Linked DNA regions of Homo sapiens. The protein of the gene in region 1 purifies or fractionates together with the protein of each later gene. This does not show direct contact. Each region holds a gene or a part of one and is shown in the gene's direction. Other genes may lie near its edges.

The links.
Region 2: the proteins of POLR3GL (region 1) and PSMA8 purify together in Homo sapiens (affinity purification with mass spectrometry; one large-scale study listed by BioGRID and IntAct). This does not show direct contact.
Region 3: the proteins of POLR3GL (region 1) and SNX8 purify together in Homo sapiens (affinity purification with mass spectrometry; one large-scale study listed by BioGRID and IntAct). This does not show direct contact.
Region 4: the proteins of POLR3GL (region 1) and TRMT1L purify together in Homo sapiens (affinity purification with mass spectrometry; one large-scale study listed by BioGRID and IntAct). This does not show direct contact.

The regions. Positions count from the first base shown.
Region 1 is NC_000001.11:145,974,402-145,977,252, forward strand, and holds part of POLR3GL (DNA-directed RNA polymerase III subunit RPC7-like), read left to right. Parts: intron 1-423; 5' UTR 424-464; coding exon 465-590; intron 591-905; coding exon 906-1,035; intron 1,036-2,682; coding exon 2,683-2,751; intron 2,752-2,851. UniProt on the Homo sapiens protein: DNA-dependent RNA polymerase catalyzes the transcription of DNA into RNA using the four ribonucleoside triphosphates as substrates. Specific peripheric component of RNA polymerase III which synthesizes small RNAs, such as 5S rRNA and tRNAs.
Region 2 is NC_000018.10:26,143,596-26,147,617, forward strand, and holds part of PSMA8 (proteasome subunit alpha-type 8), read left to right. Parts: intron 1-963; coding exon 964-1,090; intron 1,091-4,022. UniProt on the Homo sapiens protein: Component of the spermatoproteasome, a proteasome specifically found in testis that promotes acetylation-dependent degradation of histones, thereby participating actively to the exchange of histones during spermatogenesis.
Region 3 is NC_000007.14:2,307,839-2,311,860, reverse strand, and holds part of SNX8 (sorting nexin-8), read left to right. Parts: intron 1-1,787; exon of another isoform or gene 1,788-1,808; intron 1,809-1,904; exon of another isoform or gene 1,905-2,004; coding exon of another isoform or gene 2,005-2,056; intron 2,057-4,022. UniProt on the Homo sapiens protein: May be involved in several stages of intracellular trafficking. May play a role in intracellular protein transport from early endosomes to the trans-Golgi network.
Region 4 is NC_000001.11:185,150,051-185,154,072, reverse strand, and holds part of TRMT1L (tRNA (guanine(27)-N(2))-dimethyltransferase), read left to right. Parts: intron 1-2,137; coding exon 2,138-2,248; intron 2,249-3,580; coding exon 3,581-3,694; intron 3,695-4,022. UniProt on the Homo sapiens protein: Specifically dimethylates a single guanine residue at position 27 of tRNA(Tyr) using S-adenosyl-L-methionine as donor of the methyl groups. Dimethylation at position 27 of tRNA(Tyr) is required for efficient translation of tyrosine codons.

The DNA.
Region 1 (2,851 bases):
GCACTTTGGGAGGCTGAGGCAGGAGGATCTTGAGCCCAGGGGTTCGAGGCTAGAGTGAACTGTGATTGCACCATTGCACTCAAGCCTGGGTGACAGAGCATCTCTAAAAATAAAAATAAAGAAATGCAGATAGAGATAAACATCAAATTGTCTTAGGGATGTAGAGTTTTGTCCAAAGGTGTCAGCACTTTCTCCTTTGTGCTAAACTATATTGTAATTATCTGACCTGTTTGGGGGACCATGTCTCATTCATGTTTATATTTCCAGAAATTCTCTCTCTGACACTGTGCCTTCTCAGTCAAAATTTGTTGAATGACATTAACTTTTCATGTCCCAGAGATAAAAGATTGAATGTCTTGTACCTCCTTGGCTTCCTGTCCATTCTACTACATTTCTTTTTCTCTTTGTTTTTGTCTTTATTAGGTTTATTCACTGGATCTCTGAATACCCAGGCCCCCTCCACCATGGCCAGCCGGGGTGGGGGCCGGGGTCGTGGCCGGGGCCAGTTGACCTTCAACGTGGAGGCCGTGGGCATTGGGAAAGGGGATGCTTTGCCCCCACCCACCCTGCAGCCTTCTCCACTCTTCCCTGTGAGTCTCTCCACTCCCTTCCCAGACTCTCATGTGCCCCTGGCTGACTGTACATGATTCTGAATTCCTCCTGGACCATCATAAAACCATCCTCGCTTTGGCCCTCTCTCTATACTCCCAATGCACAGGGATGTTTTGCAGGCAAAGAAGTGTCCACCTTTACTTCTCCCCAGCTTTCAAAATAATATGTTACTCCCTCGATTGTCATTTGGCCCTCTGCTCAGTGGGAGTGTTAGACTAAATTGGGAGGAGGGGTCTTCCTAAATTTGTACTAGCATTTTCTCCCTGAACTGACCACTGCCCCTGCCTCTTTAGCCCTTGGAGTTCCGCCCAGTACCTTTGCCCTCAGGCGAGGAAGGGGAATATGTCCTGGCACTGAAGCAAGAGCTACGAGGAGCCATGAGGCAGCTCCCCTACTTCATCCGGCCAGCTGTCCCCAAGAGAGGTCAGTTGGAATGCTAGCATCATATTCTGAGTGCCTTCCATGGGGAGTGCCCTGTGCTCAGCACCACTGGGGGCCAGAGGGGCACAGGAAGCATACTATCTAACTGGGGAGATCATAATAGTTACCCCTGTATCTGAAATGCATTATAGTATTCATGGTTTGTTTTGAGTCTCATGATAGTCTTGGGACAGCAGGAGGTTAAATATTAAAATCCCATTTCACGTGTATAAGTAGGGGGATGTATTTTCTAAAAAATTATATATTTTTTATTTTTTTGTAAAATAGAGATAGGGTGTCCTTATGTTGTCCAGGCTGGTCTTGAACTTCTGGGCTCAAGAGATTCTCCTGCCTTGGCCTCCCAAAGTGCTGGGATTACAGGCATGAGCCACTGCGCCCAGCAAAATTTTTAACAATCTGGATATTATAAGCACCAACCAACAAGAGAATACTGAAATCCTGGTTTCTTATTCCCTAGCATACTTTCCACTGCACCACGCTATTTCTTAATACAGCCATGCCTTTGAACTAAGGGACAGAAAAAAAAAAAATCATCATGGCCGGGTGCGGTGGCTTACGCCTGTAATGGCCAGCACTTTGGGAGGCTGACATGGGTGGATCACTTGAGGCCAGGAGTTTGAGGCCAGCCTAGCCAATACGGTGAAACCCTGTCTCTACTAAAAATATAAAAATTAGCCAGGCACAGTGGTGTGTGCCTGTGGTCTCAGCTACTCGGGAGGCTGAGGCTGAGGCTGAGGCATGAGAATCGCTTGAACCTGGGAGGTGGAGGTTGCAGTGAGCTGAGATCTTGCCACTGCACTCTAGCCTGGGTGACACAGCAAACCTCTGTCTCAAAAAAAAAAGGCCAGGTGTGGTGGCTCACACCTAGAATCCCAGCACTTTGGGAGGCTGAGGTGGGCAGATCACGAGGTCAGGAGTTCAAGACCAGCTTGGCCAACATAGTGAAACCCCGTCTCTACAAAAAATACAAAAAAATTAGCCAGGCCTGGTGGCAGATGCCTCTAATCCCAGCTGCTTGGGAGGCTGAGGCAAGAATTGCTTGAACTTGGGAGGCGGAGGTTGCAGTGGGCTGAGATCACGCCACTGCACTCCAGCCCAGGCGACAGTGCGAGATTCTGTCTGAAAAAAAAAAATCGTAATTTTGGGTGGAAAAGGAACAGGTTAGAAGAGTGATAAGGGGCCGGGCGCAGTAATTCACGCCTGTAATCCCAGCACTTTGGGAGGCCGAGGTAGGTGGATCACGAGGTCAGGAGATTGAGACCATCCTGGCCAACATGGTGAAACCCCGTCTCTACTAAAAATACAAAAATTAGCTAGGCGTGGTGGTGTGTGCCTGTAGTCCCAGCTACTCAGGAGACTGAGGCAGGAGAATCGCTTGAACCTGGGAGGTGGAGGTTGCAGTAAGCTGAGATTGTACCACTGCACTCCAGCCTGAGGGACAGAGCGAGACTCTGTCTCAAAAAAAAAAAAAAAAAAAGTAGATAAGGTCCTCACTGAAGCTGACCCCCTGGGCTCTGGGTTTGGGGTAAGGAAACAGATAATTCCTCAGTATTGAGAGGGCTGGACTCTCAGGAACAGTCCTGTTCTGGGTCTCTGAAGGGATAAAACTTTGACCCTTCCACCCCTCAGATGTGGAGCGTTATTCAGACAAATATCAGATGTCAGGTCCGATTGACAATGCCATCGATTGGAACCCTGGTAGGTGATGGGCCCTTTCATTGACTGCCCTTCTTTCAAATGCATGGGATGCTTCAAGCTATTCCCACCACGCCCATGACCCCACCCCATTCCCCGATCC
Region 2 (4,022 bases), on another chromosome or scaffold:
ACTGAATGGTGGTAGGAGATGCTCTTTAAAATTTTTGCTTTGCAAACGTTTATTCTTTGATTTAACCCACCACCACTATGACTGCTGTCACTCATGGATTCACCAAAAATTGGATAAATAATTATCATACTTTCTTTTTTTTTTGAGCTTGAGTCTCGCTCTGTTGCCCAGGCTGGAGTGCAGTGGCGCAATCTCTGCTTACTGCAAGCTCTGCTTCCTGGGTTCCAGCGATTCTCCTGGCTCAGCCTCCTGAGTTGCTGGGACTACAGGTGCCTGCCACTATGCCCGGCTAATTTTTGTGTTTTTAGTAGAGACGGGGTTTCACCATGTTGGCCAGGCTGGTCTCGAACTCCAGACCTCAAGTCGTCCTCCTGCCTCAGCCTCCCAAAGTGCTAGGATTATAGTGCTGTGAGCCACCGTGCCCAGCCTTATCATACTTGTTTTTGTTAGTGTTTGTTATATATACAGCTCACATTTATTTCAGTGTTTAATATTAGAGGTGTTTTAGGTATTTGTTTAGAAGTTTGGGGATGTTTTTGTGACCAGAAATATTTCATATGAACCTAACTCCTGTTTATATTAATTGGGGTGTGATAAAATTGGTTTCATTATACATCATTTGCTTATAGTTGCAATTTTCAAGAACCTGTCAATGACATTGAGAACTTACCGTATTTAGATAGTGCTTTTTTCAGGTGTATTGTATGAGATTAGGACACTCATAATTTCAGCATTGGTGGTATTTTCTTTGCAATTTCTACCTATTTGTCTTCCTTGCTTTGAGTCTGGGGAATGGATCTCCAGTAAGCCTATACCTATGAAGCTGTTTTCTAGAAAGTTACTTTTCTTGTTTTTATTGAATACTTAAGGAGAAGTCATTTCCCCTAAGTCATATGTTAGAATAACTTGGTTTTATATTTTAAACTGACATCTGAATATATATGTATTTTAATGACTTGACAGGTCGGAATTCGAGGTACCAATATAGTTGTTCTTGGGGTAGAAAAAAAATCTGTTGCCAAGCTTCAAGATGAAAGAACTGTGAGGAAAATTTGTGCCCTTGATGACCATGTCTGCATGGCTTTTGCAGGTACTTAAGGTCCTACAATAATGATGCATAGTGTCTTACTGTAGTAGGGCAACACAGTTAACCTCAGTGCTGCAGTTGTGCTATATTTATAAAACATGTGGAGTTGTTCTACAAACAATATATCCTACGTTTTAAAGCAAATACTAACTTTGTAAACCAGGATTTTTGATAAAGTACAAATGTTAAAAGATATATATTACTTTACTTCAAAATTTAGGTAGCTATTTTCTTTTCAAAACTTTTTATTTTTAAATAATTACAGATTTAGAAGAAGCTACCAAAAACATAGAAAGTCCCCTTTACACAGTTTCCCTAAATGGTAACATCTTCAAAACCAGTAAATTGACATTTGCTGAGAGTGTATTCAGATTTTGCCAGTTTTACATGCATTCACTTGCATGTTCATGTACATGTATGTAGTTTTTTGTTTTTGTTTTTATTTTTATTTTTGAGACAGAGTTTCACTCTTGTTGCCCAGGCTGGAGTGCAATGGCGCGATCTCTGCTCACTGCAACCTCCACCTCCCGGGTTCAAGCAATTCTCCTGCCTCAGCCTCCCGAGTAGCTGGGATTACAGGCATGCATCACCACACCCGGCTAATTTTGTATTTTTAGTGGAGACGGGGTTTCTCCATGTTGGTCAGGCTGGTCTTGAACTCCTGACCTCGGGTGATCCACCCGCCACAGTCTCCCAAAGTGCTGGGATTACAGGTGTGAGCCACCGCGCCCGGCCTCTGTGTGCAGTTTTATTACACTAACCACATATGTAGATTCATGTAGTCATCACCACACTCAAGATACATAACTCTTCCATCACCACAAGACTACCTCATGCTATTTCTTCTCACCATCTCTACTTTCTGGAAACTGCTATCTATTCTGTATCTCTATAATTTTGTCATTTTGAGAATGTTATATGGATAAAGTTATATAATATATAACCCTTTCAGATTAATCTTTTTTATTCAGCATAATTCCCTTGCAGTTCATGCAAGTTGTTGCATATATCCATTCCTTTTTATTACTGAGTAGTATTCCATGGAATAAAGGCACCAGTGGGTTTGTTAACTCTCCTATTGAGGGACATTTGGGTTATTTCCAATTTTTGACTATTGTAAATAATGCCTCTATGAATATTTGTTTACAGATTTTTGAGTGAAAGTAGGATTTCATTTCTCTGGGACAAATTCCTAAGAGTATAGTTGCTGGATTATATGATAATCCATGCTTAGTTTTATGAAACACTGCCAGTCCAGAGTGGTTATACTATTTTAAATTCCAACTAGCAATATATGAGTGATTCATTTGCTCTGTGTTATCAGCATTTGCTATTGTTGCTTTTCTTCATTTTTTTATATTCTTATACATGTGTACTGATATCTAATTGTAAGTTTAATTTTTATTTCCCTCACGGCTAATAATTTTGAACTTATTTTTATGTGCTTATTTGCCCCTATACAGCAAATAAGACATGCCTCTTGTCTTTTTTTTTTTCCTCATCTTCTGATTGGGTTTTTTTTTTTTAACTGTAATTTTATATTGAAGTTTAACAATCTCATTCAAGCCACACATGATGGTGCACATCTGTAATTGCACCTACTCAGGAGGTCGAGGCAGGAGAATTACTTGAGCTTAGAAGTTTGAGTTCAGCTTGGGCAACTGAGCAAGATACTATCTCTTAAAAAATAAAAAAATTAAAACCTCATTCAGAAAAACAAAAATGCCTTTATTGTGCTGTCTTTAAGAAGGAATTATCTTTTCACAAAACAAGTCTTAATAAATATAAAAACATTGAAGCATCCAGGCATAGTGGCTCATACCTGTAATCCCAAGATCTTGGAAAGCTGAGGCAGGCAGATCATTTGAGCCCAAAAGTTCGAGCCTGTCTGAGCAACATGGTGAAACTTCATCTCAAAAAAAATACAAAAATTAGCTGGGGATGGTGGCGTGTGCCTATAGTCCCAGCTACTTGGGAGGCTGGGCTGGGAAGATCCATTGAACCCAGCAGGTTGAGGCTGCAGTGAGCTGTGATCACACCACTGCATTCCAGTCCAGGCAACAGAGTGAGACCCTATGTATCAGTCCATTCTTGCATTGCTATAAAGAAACACCTGAAAAACAACAACAACAAAACAGAAATACCTGAGACTGGGTAACTTATAAAGAAAAGATATTTAATTGGTTCACAGTTCCGTAGGCTGTACAGGAAGCATAGCAGCTTCTGCTTTTGGGCGGCCTCAGTAAGCTTTCAATCATGGTAGAAGGCAAAGGGGGAGTGAGACATCTCACATGGCCAGAGCAGGAAGAAGAGAGAGAGAAGGGAGAGGTGCCAAATACACTTAAACAATCAGATCTCGTTAGAACTCTATCACAAGAACAGCATTGGGGGATAGTGCTAAGCTAGTCATGAGAAACCATCCCCATGAGCCAATCACCTTATATCAGGCCCCACCTCCAACTTTGGGGATTACAGTTATACATGAGATTTGGGTGGGTACAGAGATCCAAACCATATCACCCTGTCTCAAAAAAAAAAAAAAAAAAAAAAGATTGAAACCATACAGAGTATTTTTTTCTGATCAAAATGGAATGGAACTAGAAATTAGTAGTGGAAGGAAGACGTGAAAATCCACAAACACGTGGAGTTAAGCAATATATTCCTAAATCACCCATGGGGCAATGAAAAAAATCACAAGGGAAATGAACAGATATCTTGAGAGAAAGGCAAATAAAAGCACAACATATCAAAACTTGGGGAATGTATTGAAAGTAGTGCTAATAGGAAAATTTATAGCCATAAACATTTACATTAAAAAAGAAAGATCTCAATTCAACAGCCTGCCTTTATACCTTAAAACTAGGAAAATAAGAATAAACTAAGTTTAAAGCTAGTAGAAAGAAGTAATAAATCCCTGATGACTCTTTCCCCTAGA
Region 3 (4,022 bases), on another chromosome or scaffold:
GGTTCATGCCATTCTCCTGCCTCAGCCTCCCGAGTAGCTGGGACTACAGGCGCCCGCCACCACGCCCGGCTAATTTTTTGTATTTTTAGTAGAGACGGGGTTTCACCATGTTAGCCAGGATGGTCTCGATCTCCTGACCTCGTGATCTAGCCGCCTCGGCCTCCCAAAGTGCTGGGATTACAGGCGTGAGCCACCGCGCCCGGCCTCGCAGGTCTTTTTACATTGAGAAAACTAAAATCCAGAGGTAAGTAATTTGCCCAAAGTGGGCAATGTCAAGGGAATGTGTGTTGATGGGGACCCTGATTGGGTGGGCTGGAGTGAGAAAACCTCAGCCTTGAGACCAAGCACTGTGGCTCACGTCTGAAATCACAGCACTTGGGGAGGCTGAGGAGGGAGGATCGCCCGAGCCCAGGCGCTAGAGACCAGCCTGGACAACGTAGCGAAATCCTGTCTCAAATTTTTAAAAAAGAAAACAAAAACAAAAACAGCAAAGAAAAAAGTTAAGTCTCTGAATATTGTCCGGAGACTATGTGTGTGACTTACACGTTCACTAAGGTTGGTTTGAAGGAGTGGTTGTGCCTTACGGGTATACAGTGAATTTCCTCTTCTCTAGAGTTTTGGCCACACAGCCAGAGCCCACTGGTGGTATTCATGTGGGAACTGTGAAATCTCCTGCATCTTCGGTGTTGCCAGAAAAAAATGTGCTTGTTGTACTTTTCCACATTAAGAGTCTCATTCTATTTGAATTCTTTGAAGCTTAAGCTGTGAATGCTCTCTAGGGCAACCCTCTTTATAAAAACTTAATTTTCAGTTATGCCATACATGGACAAATGTATTTTCTTTAAAAAAGAATAGAACATTGTAGATTAAGTGAAAGTCCCATCCTAATTGCCATCATCTCCTGTCTGTACCTGAGAGGTGACCATTGTTCTCAGTTTGGGATGGACCGTTTTAGTTCTGTTTTCACATTTTATTCATATATGTACTCAGGAAACATATACTTCCTTATATAAGTGTGCTCATGTTTCCCTAGCGTAGTATATTCTCTAGCTTTCTTTTGTTCCTTTTATTTTTATTTATTTATTTTTTTGAGACGTAGTTTCACTCTTTTGCCCAGGCTGGAGTGCAGTGGTGCGATCTTGGCTCACTGCAAGCTCCACCTCCTGGGTTGACGCCATTCTTCTTTCTGCCTCAGCCTCCTGAGTAGCTGGGACTACAGGTGCCTGCCACCACACCTGACTAATTTTTTGTATTTTTAGTAGAGATGGCATTTCACCGTGTTAGCCAGGTTGGTCTTGATCTCCTGACCTCATGATCTGCCTGCCTCGGCCTACCAAAGTGCTGAGATTACAGGGGTGAACCACTGCGCCCAGCCACGCCTGGCCAATTTTTAAAATTTTTTGTAGAGACAGTCTGGCTGTGTTGCCCAGGCTGGTGTGGAACTCCTGGCCTCAAGCAATCCTCCCACCCGGGCCTCCCAAAGTGCTGGGATTTCAGGCATGAGGCACCGAGCCTGGCTGGATTTTATATTGAAACTATTCCTGTCAAAATATCTGATTGACCGGAACATTCTGTCCTCTGACTATGCAGGATAAGGGTTTTTTTCAGGGCCTGTTCTTAGGTCATGAAGCTCAATGATTGTGACATCCAGCGAGAACGGCAGTGAGTGTGGTAAGTGTGCTTGGTCGTCCAGCCTGATTTCTCGGGATCGATTAATACATGGATAGAAATATGTACAGATGACCACGGCGTATCCTGGCTCTGCCGTATACAGTCCTGCGGCCCTACATTGACTCTTTAGAACGAGGGTGAGTCACGCTTCACTTGCGGCTCATCCCATGGCATTCCATACATTCCATTCGGTTCGGAAGCTCCGTGCTGTTTGTCCGCGTTGACCTGGCGATGACTCCTTGAGTGTCATTGAGGCAGGTCCAGGGCCTTTGCTGACCCTCGGGGCTCCTTCACCCCTGCCCCGAGCCTTCCCCTCTTGCCTGGGCGACTTCCATGCACCCTGGGCTCCCATCAACCCTTACCTGCAGCTGCTCGCTCATGTCAGGTCTGTTCTCTGTGTGAATACGTTGGTCAGAATTCATTGCGCTGTCACTTAAAGTTTATACTTTTTTTTTTTTGAGATGGAGTCTCGCTCTTGTTGTCCAGGCTGGAGTGCGATGGCGCGATCTCGGCTCACCGCAACCTCCTCCTCCCGGGTTCAAGCAATTCTCTTGCCTCAGCCTCCTGAGTAGCTGGGATTACAGGCATGCGTCACCACACCTGGCTAATTTTGTATTTTCAGTAGAGACGGGGTTTCTCCATGTTGGTCAGGCTGGTCTCGAACTCCCAACCTCAGGTGATCTGCCCACCTTGGCCTCCCAAAGCACTGGGATTACAGGCGTGAGCCACCGCGCCCGGCTGGTTCTGGTGATTCTTGTGCCTCAGCCTCCCCAGTAGCTGGGATTACAGGCGTGTGCCACCACACCTGGCTAATTTTTGTATTTTTAGTAGAGACGAAGTTTCGCCATGTTGGCCAGGAAGGATGATCTCAAACTCCTGACCTCATGTGATCCACTTGCTTTGGCCTCCCAAAGTGCTGGGATTACAGGGGTGATCCACCCCACTGGGCCTATTTATACATTTTGAGCAGGGTGTGGTGGCTCACACCTGTAATCCTAACACTTTGGGAGGTTAAGGCAGGAGGATCACTTCAGGCCAGGAGTTTGAGGCCAGCCTGGGCAATAGAGTGAGACCCCATCCCTATTTAAAAAAAAGATTTGTGTCTGGGCCTGGTGGTTCACGCCTGTAATCCCAGCACTTTGGGAGGCCGAGGTGGGCGGATCACCTGAGGTCAGGAATTCAAGACCAGCCTGGCCAACATGGTGAAACCCCGTCTGTACAAAAATCCAATAATTAGCTGGGCATAATGGCGAGTGCCTGTAATCCCAGCTACTCGGGAGGCTGAGGTGGGAGAATTGCGTTAACCTGGGAGGCAGAGGTTGTAGAGGTTGTAGTGAGCCGAGATGGTGCCGCGCTGCAGCCTGGTTGACAGAACAAGACTCCAGCTCAAAAAAAAAAAAAAAAAAAAATTTGTTCATTTTATGGTGATTAAATTATGCCCCACAGTATTGTTTGCATTAGGGACAAAACCTTCTGCCCCATTTCGCTCCCTTCCATGACCCTTTTTTTTTTTTTTTTTTTTTTGAGACAGAGTCTCACTCTGTTGCCCAGGCTGGAGTGCAGTGGTGCCATCTAGCCTCACTGCAACCTCCATCTCCTAGGTTCAAGTGACTCCTGCCTCAGTCTCCCCCGTAGTTGGGATTACAGGCGTGTGCCACCATGCCCAGCTAATTTTTGTATTTTTAGTAGAGTCGGGGTTTTACCATGTTGACCAGGCTGGTCTCGAACTCCTGACTTCAGGTGATCCGCCCGCTGCAGCCTCCCAAAGTGCTGGGATTACAGGTGTGAGCCACCGTGACTGGCCATGACACATATTTTGGTAGTAAACTCCTGATGAGCAAACTTATTTTTATTTTTTTTACAAGTTTATTTTGTTTATATAGTTTTGTTACTTTTTTCTTTTTTTAATTCTGGCTCTCTCCAGAAAACAGAAACCTATTTTTCTTTAACCACAGTATCTAGAATACTATCTGCTATGTAGCAGAGTCTCAAATATTTGAATAGAATTACATTTTTATAAATTTTTGTATTATATTTCTTATGTGATAAGACTTGACAACACTGCAAATATGTTTTGTTACTGGTCTTTAAACTTGCTCATCCTCTCTCTCTCTCTGTCTCTCTCTCACACACACACACACGCACACATACACAATTTGCAAGGTAAAACGTGTCAATTTGAAGAAAGAGGAACTAACTGAATCACTGTTATGTAGAACAGATTTTGCCAGAATTTGTGGTTAGCAAGAAAGTGATGTGTTCCGGGTAGGGGAATTCTGTTTTGGTATTATTTTGTCTTTCCTGAGAAAAGCATCACAAAAAGAGATGTTTGCCCATCCTGTTTGCTGGGG
Region 4 (4,022 bases), about 39 Mb from region 1:
TTTAACAAACTTTAGTGCCTCCTATCTGCAAGCTACTGCATTAGGCACTTAGCCATCAGAAAGATGAACAAGAAATAGGCCTTGTCTTCTGTTGATTATTTGTGGGGAAAGCGAACAAGGACACAAATTATACAAATGGGTAAACGAACTGATAGTGAAGCTCGGAGAGGAGTAGTCAAGAAGGTGCTAATATCAAGAATTGAATTTTAAAGTCTCAAGGTTTTAAATTGTATAACCTAATAACATAATATTAGAGAGCCCTGTGGTTTATCCCACCATCTCCTGTCTCCTTGGGCTCTTTACATATCAGTTTCTCCTAATCTTAATATATATTCAGTCCCCACTTTGTAATTGTTCCTTTCTCTTGGAATGCACATATATTCAGGTTCCCCATACTTAAAAAAAAGCAAGTTACAGTCTGATTCATTTCCTTTTTTATACCGTCAAACTTCTCAAAAAAAGAAAAACCTAATTTTCTGTATTTCCTTTCCCCTTCCAATTCTGTTTCTACTCTGAAACACCTCCCTGAACCTGTTTTCTTAAAGGTCACCAGATGTGCTTTCTTGATCTCTACAACTGTTTGTGATATTCAGTGTTGAACGTTTTGCGTTTATAGACTCTTCTCCCTTGGCTTCTGCATTACCTTGATTCCCCTTACCATTTATTCTTTCTGAATCTACATTCCTGATTCCTTCTACTTAATTTTTCTTATAAATATCTACATCTCTCATACCTCACTACCAGATTATATCTATCTATAATAATCAGTAGCGGGTTCAGCAACAGGTAGGGAATGTATCCCCTACCCACCCCAGTCAGAACATGTTAAACTTATTTTAGACTTATTCATGTATTTCCAAATTTAATTTAATTTGAAGAGTGTGTAATGCTTGAGAAACCTGAAAATGCATTAGTGGGACAAATATGTAATGATTGAGAAATTTGAAATGCATTAGAATTAAAATATAAATCACATTTTAAAATTAATTTTACATAGCCTAGTTGGTTGTTTGAAATCAGTCATAACTAGGTAAGACTGGGTCTTGGCTTTTTCTCTTATTTTTCACACTTTTTTTCTTAGGCTTTCTTATTTATTCTCATAGTTTCACCTAATGTGTTACTTACGATTTGTATCTCTAGAATCCCTCCTGAGCTCCAAAAACAAATTGCCAGCTGCCTATTATACATTATTGCTGGAATACTGTACCAGTAGTACATCAAACACACCATGTCAAAAACTAAATTTTCCTTTCTCTTTTCCCCTTCCTTTCTGCCATAAGAGTTTCTTCTGTCTTGTTTGCTTAATATACCATTATTCTCAACCACATAAACTCAAAATCTTGGAATCATCTTTGATTTTATCCTTCACCTTTACTTCTCATATCCCAAGTTCTGTTGCTTATTTTTTTAACCTTCTATTCTGTCCCTTCCCATTGCTAATTTTCTCTGTTACTGATCTTTGGTATTACTGGCAGAGATAGCCTCCTGAAACTCATTCAGATCGTATAATTCACTTCCTCAAAAACCTGCAGAGACTTACCATTATTTGAAGAATAAAGTTCAAACTAACTTGCGTAGAATTTATGTTTTCCTTGGTCTGTACTGCATCTTCAGCTGCACATACTTCTACTGACTCCATCCCCCCAAACATACCACATTCCAGCCAAGGGTGGGGTGGCATGGTTGTATGTTTTCTACACATGGATTTGTTCATGAGGTTACTTCAGTTCATGAGGCCAGTTAGCAAATCTCTACTTAATAGTGTTCATTTCATCCTATCTCATATGATAGTTAGAAGTTGACATATTGCCTTCTCCCACCTGATTGAAAGTTCTTTGAAGATAGAAAACATGACTTAACGTTTCCTTCAGTATTTTGTATAGGACAGAAACATTTTTCATAGAATTATTTTGACTAATTAGATAAAATTTTAAAACTAAGTTTATACAGTGGGGTCTCCCCCCAACTTTTCATTCTAAAGCACACTTGTTATTTTATAAACCGAGTTGTGGCAGTATTCCCCATCTAGGTCCATAACACTGTGTTATAGGAAATAAACTTCTATACGATGTGATCAATAAAAATGGAACTAGAATACAAACTGTTAAAGCATAATCTTCTCAATTTTTTTTTTCAGAGAGACACATCTCAATTCAAAGGCAGCTTGCTGATCTAGAGAATTTAGCTTTTGTAACTGATGGAAATTTTGACTCTGCCAGCTCATTGAACTCAGATAATCTTGATGCAGGTATTTCCATGTTTGGGTTTTTTTTTTTTCTTAGTTTCTAATAATTTATCATCTTTCAATTCACAAAAATAAGTTTGGTAAGAGTAGACTTGTTTATTCTTACTGAACTAGAACAGTGGTAAAATACAGTTTTTTATTCAGGAAATTGGCAACCGCTTATGTGCAAAGTTGCTATGGAAATAAGTTATTTTACAACTCCTCAAGAAAATTATAATTTCACGGATGTCTAGGGGCTGTCTATTCGGCAAGTTAGGAATGGCATTTGGCTACAAGTAACAGAGGTCCCAAAAAACAGTGTCTTAAGAGGTTAATATTCTGTCAGGTAAATGAAGTCCCAAGATAGGCAATTTAGGGCTGGTATGAGAGTTCCACGTTATCAGTGCCCCACACTGCTCTCTTTCTGCTCTACTCTCCTTAGTGTTTGGTTTGTATCCTCAAGATCGCTGACTGCGTGGTTTTTTTGAAGTAGACAGTGTAAAAATAAAAATTGTACCTATACTCTATTGTACTGTATGTGAAAGATATTTGTTGGGTTAAAAATTATTAATATGAGCTGACAGGTATGTAGGTATAAGAGAAAAAAGAAAAAAATTACTAAATGAGTTATTAATGATTCTTGCTGTATATTTTATTGCTTTAAACCTGAATTTGAAATTTAATTCTTTCATCTATACTATCAAAGTTTTTATTTGAGATACATTATATTTCTAATTAAATAAGACATTTTTATGATACATAATCTTTTTGAGAATATGTTAATAAAGAAGGCAGAACTTGTAAATTCAGTAATGGATACGGTGGCTGTAACTATGCGCCCCGTCTCAGAACAGCGGTTATATCAAATCCCATCTATTCCTTCCACTTCCTTCTTCCATTTTTCTAACTCCACATGTTAACTGTTTTTGTTGTTGCCAGTTTAGTAGAGGAATACCACAGCACATACTTTTGCTCTTTGTCCAATCCCTGTCCTTTTGGGAGTGTAACTGCTGTCCTTTCAGCTGTCCAAAATACAGAGTGATGCTCTCAGTGGCAGAAAATTTGGCCGGAAGGATGTCATACAGTTTATCACTTCTTCAACCTTTGTTCCCAGTAACGACAAATGCATCCACTAGCTACAGAGAGGGAAATTTTAGGGTGAAAAAACAATCACTGATCATGTGCTGCAACAATTACTGTTAACTGTCTCCTGGGTCAAGAATAATGACTTCTCCCTAAAGTTAAGAAAGACTTTAAGAAGTAGGAGGGGGAGCCCCCATTAACCTCTTTGTAGTTGAATCCAGGCATTAATAACTAGAATATTCTGTTGTTTATTGATTCTTTTTTCTTTTTAAGGCAACAGACAGGCTTGTCCATTGTGCCCTAAGGAAAAATTCAGAGCTTGTAATAGCCATAAGCTTCGTCGTCACCTCCAGAATTTACACTGGAAAGTCTCAGTTGAATTTGAAGGTTAGTATTTTTGTGCTTGCAAAGAAGTAATATATATGAAATTCAACATTTATTACCAGTTTTGGCATTTTTATCATGAGTATAATCAAATATTTTCAGTTTAAAATGTGAGGGGTTTAATGCCCTCATTTCTAATGTATTTAATAAAACACCATATAGCTTTATAGGCAGTAGAGATCTATATGACACAGTTTAGTTGAGCAAACATTTATTATGCATCTGTTGTATACTGAGTACTCTGACCCTGGGAGTCCATTTTGCTTCTTGAACAATGTTTTAATAAGTTTTCCTTTTATTTTACACATATTTTGGAAGGTATAGTACATGT